2 separate regions of the Homo sapiens genome follow, and region 2 is linked to region 1. Evidence: fine-mapped expression QTL. A gene starts in region 1. The other region holds a variant in brackets. All regions are shown on one strand. Distances are from middle to middle.

Evidence for each region. PIP is the estimated chance that this variant, and not a neighbour inherited with it, causes the effect.
Region 2: its variant is the best candidate, but not a certain one, in a credible set for the expression of TYW2 in whole blood (INTERVAL, PIP 0.86).

What each region holds. Positions count from the first base shown.
Region 1 is chr8:124,449,422-124,451,921 of GRCh38, reverse strand. It overlaps TYW2 (tRNA wybutosine-synthesizing protein 2), which reads right to left and starts at 1,102. Exons shown (of 1, transcript NM_017956.4): 1 at 1-1,102. The coding sequence starts at 994.
Region 2 is chr8:124,501,103-124,504,133 of GRCh38, reverse strand. The region is part of intron 9 of TATDN1 (TatD DNase domain containing 1); the gene reads left to right. Among named protein-coding and RNA genes, the nearest start is that of MIR6844, 6.0 kb to the left of the region's middle. The variant C/GTTCC (reference allele first, on the strand shown) is at 1,463.

The DNA.
Region 1 (2,500 bases):
TGCCTCCAGCATCCTGCCTTAACACTTGGCAGGCAATGGGCCAGCCTTCTTCAGAGCTGGGAATCAGCCCCAGGATCACCCTATCTGCAATATTTGAGAGCTTCAGTTTTCTGTTATCTCCAAAGTGTATTTGGCACCGATCTGCTACTCCATTGATCTCAAGGTTATTTCTCAGAGCAACTACAGCATGGGGATTCCACTCACAAGCATGGACGAAGGCAGCACCAGCATGAACTAGGAAAGGCAATGTAAAATAACCAATCCCTGCATAGAGATCCACCAGCACTTCTCCAGCACAGGACAACGATGCCACTCGAAGCTTCTCAGTGATGTTTCCAAAGGAGAACATACACTGGGTCACGTCAAACTTATAACGGATACCATTATCCACATGCTCTACCCAGCCATGGTCACCCAGCAGCAGTGTCACTGCTGGAGTTCGAGTACCATCCGGTGATACCCGCCCTCGTTTTGCCAAACGCTGGACGCCAAGTGCCAAGGCAACGGTCTCCCAGAGTTCCGGTCCCAGATTTTTCCACTGCTTGGCTTGGAAACAGTCTTCACTCAGCAACAAGAGATTACCATGCCGTTGCCATGATCGGGGCAAATCAGCCTCCAACTCGGCTGACCACTTGACTCCCCGACCCTCCACCCAGCGACTCACCTCAAGACACAATTTTTGGGCAGGTGAACAACCCTGGGCCCTCTTCGAAGGAACAGGATCCGGGAGCTGCGTGAGCATACAGGGACTGCCTGGGGCAACACGATTCCTCAGCTCCTGCAGGTGCTGCTCTGGAAGCGTCTCTCCCAGCACCGGTAGCGCCACCGAGCCATCCGGCATCTTTTCCACACGGTGCTGTGTATCAAAGAGTTTCTGCCTCTGGAGATATTCTCTGTATCGCTGGGTAAACCAAGGCTCAGTCACAACTGCGACAACAGCCACGGGCTTCCCACTTTCTCTCTCCATGTTGCTAACAACCACATTCTCTCTCATCACCTCAGCGATACTCCATCTCCTCAGAGTCGGCTCACCAGGCTGACTAAATTCCCGGTCTTAAATAAGGTAGCCTGCAGCTCACCCGGCCATGCCGGTGCCGGAAATGACGTGCAAAGAGGCCGGAACTAAATATATTGATGCGCTTGCTTGAGAATGGCGTTGCCGTTGCTGTGGAGAAGCTGCGGCCGCCATCTTTTTTATGGTCAACCATTACTTTTTTTTCAGCCTAGGAAGACATTTATAACAGGGAATCTTATGGACTAAAAGACTTCAAATTGCTATTTTCCAGAAACCTCATGCACTCTCTTCAGTGCTGCTCATGAATTCAAAGAGAAAAATTAACATGAAATTGTCAGAGGCGCATGAACCAGAGCAACTCCATCTTAAATAGGAGCTGGGTAAAATGAGGCTGAAACCTACTGGGCTGCATTCCTAGACGGTTAAGGCACTCTAAGTCGCCAGATGAGATAGGAAGTCAGCATAAAATACAGGTCAAAAAGACCTTGCTGATAAAACAGGTTGCAGTGAAGGAGCGGCCAAAATCCACCAAAACTAAAATGGCCACGAGAGTGACCTCTGGTGGTGCTCACTGCTACACTCCCACCAGCGCCATGACAGTTTACAAATGCCATGGCAACGTCAGGAAGTTACCCTATATGGTCTAAAAAGGGGAGGCATGAATAATCCACCCCTCGTTTAGCATATCATCTGGAAATAACCATAAAAATGGGCAACCAGCAGCCCTCATGGCTGCTCTGTCTATGGAATAGCCATTCTTTTATTCCTTTACTTTCTTAATAAACTTGCTTTCACTTTGCACTGCGGACTTGCCCTGAATTCTTTCTTGCATGAGATCCAAGAACCCCATGTTGTAGTCTGCATTGGGACCCCTTTCCTGTAACAAAATGATGATCTGAATTTGGAGAAAGCTTTCCCATAGCCTAATGCTGCTCTCAGGTTAGCATCAGCAGCCACCTTATTTTCTGAAAGTGAAGAGTCAGATACAGCTCCCTTTTTCCCTTTTCATGCAGATATAGTCATCACTGTTTCATTGTCCTTTGGTCCAAGAAACAACTATTTGAAAGTCAGAAGGATCTGAGTTCCAGTAAATCGTATCACCCCTCAAAATTGGAATCTTCACTTATAAAATGGAATCTAATCTTCAGAAGATTGCTATAGTGAGTAGAGACATTATAGTGTCTTAGACAATAACTAGTAAAGAGTAGATACTTAAAAAGATACAAAGTAACAAGTTGGCTAGCTCACAGGTACTAAATACCTGTTGAAATGCTTTGATATTCCTAAAGAAGACAAAGGGGAATTCCATATAGACTAAATCAAATAGTTGGATATAAGAACTGTAAAGAAACCCTATCACTTCTACTTCACTCCCGCTGTCAGAGGAGTCCAAACCAGAGTGACTCCATCTTGAATAAAGGCTGAATAAAGCAAAACCTGCTGGGTTACATTCCCAGAAAGTTAAGTACTCTCCATAATAAGACT
Region 2 (3,031 bases), 52 kb before region 1:
TAATTATTTATTAAGAAATTAAACAGTACATTACTATTAAAAGTTAAAGCTCGAAAGTTATAGACTACTACATTATGTTCTAATAATGGAAAACAATTTTGTGTTGAGATCTGCAGCTGGCTTTCTCTGGTAATCCAATTTATTCTCAGGTCATTTGATCCCTTGAAAACATGTGTTCACAGCATTATGTATACATATACACGTCATATCTGACTATGGACGAACGGTTTATTCTGTGACAGTCATACATCTCTGCAGTCAAAGAAACCGAGGCTCAAAGAAATTAGGAAACAGGTATAGAGTTTCTCCAAGTATGAGAACCCATGTCCTCTGGCTTCTCACTCTGTGATCTTTCTGCTGTTGTACCACACTAAACTTCACACACTCAGTACAGTCAGCTAGCACAGCTAGGTCTCTGGGTTGGTTTTGTCACATATGTAAGAGCTTCTACCAGTGACTTTTCACAGGATGTCAGTGTAGCCTATTAAATCAGTTGCAAAATAGTATAGGAGTTTCTGTCCTTCTTCATTGTCTCATACCCTTAAAATTATTATGTTTCCAATTGCATTATTTTTGACTAAAATCTAGGGAAATAGAATCATGGAATTATGTATTTGCTCTAGAGTTCAGAGTTTAAATGTCTAAGATGCTTTCATATTTAAATTAATGGTTTAATTAACTTTAAAATTAATTAATATGCAAGGGAATATATGCATAGAGATTAAAAAGTCAAGTAGTACTAACAGATATGAACAAATATCAGAGTCCCCCCAGCATGACCTTACCCCAAGTCAGCTTTTGTAGCAGCAATAATTTTGCTATTTGTCACCATATTTCTAAATAATATCCATATACTATTGTCTCTTGATTCATCCCCTTTGTCTATTCTCATTGGGGTATATGAGCACATTAGTTCTTATATCCCGTACTAATCCCCTACCTCCATTCTCTGCATATCACTCTCAATGTCGTTATTTCAGAATTTTTGGTTATATGCATACTCAATGTTTTCATTATTATGTCTATATAAATGTTGTTTCCTTATTATGCCTATATAAATATATAATTTCACAGTGCTATGCCAAGTATGAGAGGGTTTCAAGTTTTTTGTTTTTTGGTTTCTTTTTAAAGATAGGGACTTGCTTGCTCTGTAGCCCAAGCTGGAATGCAGTGGCGTGATCACAACTCTGCAGCCTTGACCTCCCAGGCTCAAGCAACCCTCCCACCTCAGCCTCCTGAGTAGCTGGTATTACTGGTGCATGCCACCACACCTGGCTATTTTTTAAATTTTTAGTTGAGACAGGGTCTTGCTATGTGCCCAGGCTGGGCTTCAAGTTTAAGAAAGCCAAGTAAATAAAAATATGAGGGAGGTTAATCCAGGAAAACAAAAAGTAGTACAAGAAAAGAAATGTTAAGCACAGTATACCACATGAGCAAACCTATGTAGATAATCTAATAGTTC[C/GTTCC]GTCAGTTGCAGACCCTTCCATGTGTTTCAATTTGGACTAGTTCCTATTTTTAGATCCCATGTATTCCTTGCGTGTTTGTTTTAGTGGAACACATTCTATAACATCCTCTGAGGATGTTTTCATGGGAATTAAGTTTCTTTTAAATACAAGCCAGTATTTCTATTTAATAAGGTTTCCCATTTAGTGATGAGCAACTACACGATTCTGAAGTCAAGTTTGAAATACATCTTCCCATTTTGAAAATGAATTTTTTTTCTGCTCTTCCTCTTACAAGTTAGCCTGGATAGTTAATGAAAGGGGAGAGAACCCCACTTTTTTTTTTTTTTTTTTGAGAGGGACTCTCACTCAGTCGCCCAGGCTGGAGTGCAGTGGCGCGATCTTGGCTCACTGCAGGCTCCGCCTCCCGGGTTCACGCCATTCTCCTGCCTCAGCTTCCCGAGTAGCTGGGATTACAGGTGCCCGCCACTACACCTGGCTATTTTTTTTGTTTTTGTATTTTTAGTAGAGACAGGGATTCACTGTGTTAGCCGGGATGGTCTCGACCTCCTGACCTCGTGATCTGCCCGTCTCGGCCTCCCAAAGTGCTGGGATTACAGGTGTGAGCCACCACACCCAGCCCCCCACTTTCAATGGATAGTTCTCTTGAATAAAATTCAAGATCAGAAATCATTTTCATTGAGAATTTATACTGTCCCATCAGTAGGTTCCAGTGTTGATGAAAAGTTGCTACTCTGATTCCTAATCCTTTACCTGTGACCTAGTTTTCTTCTCTTGTGAAAGGTTTTAGTTTTTCATCTCTGATGTGAAATTTCACGAAGGTGTGTGTTGATGGTTTTCATCACGCCTGGTGTTGCTTTTTCATTAGCCCTTCCAGTGGGGGGCACATCTTTACCCGTCCTTGGAATTTGATTTTTCTCTTCTGTTCTTTTCTTGGGCATACTAGACTGATAACTCGTATTCTTTTTATTCTATTTCCATTGTTTCCCTCCTTCCAAAAAAAGTGCTATATTTTGTAACCCTTTTTATGAAATTTACTTCAACTTTTGTTTTCAATTTCTGAATACTCTATTTTTATACTGCAGTGTCTTCTCATCTCTCTAAAGACATGAATTATAGTTTAAAGTTACTTTCTGCTTGTCTTCCTGCATTTGTTTCCTCACAGTCACCTTTTCTTCTTTCCTTTGGTCTCTGTGATGATGGAAACTTTCTTCAAATGTCAGGCAGTCCTTCACTGTCTATTTAAAAAAAGAAAAAAAAAAGCCATTTGGAAGCTCTCTAGAAGGCATTCCAGCAACTGGCAGGCTCAGATGGCCAACTGACTTTTTGCTAGGGATTCCCAAATGTCAGTTTGTAGAGATCTTTTTCTGGGTTGGTTCAGTTTCTCCAGAAAGGGATCCTGTGTTCTCTGCTGGAAAAGTGGGGAACAGTGGAGGGAAGGGGTTTGTAAATGTCCCTGACAGTATTTTGGAGCAGGATGGGTTAGAGGATCTCACTGTTTAGTGGGCTGCCCCAGTCTCCATGCTCAGGCCTGTGCCTGACGCCTGTACTCCTCTGTGCTTGTTGTTCTC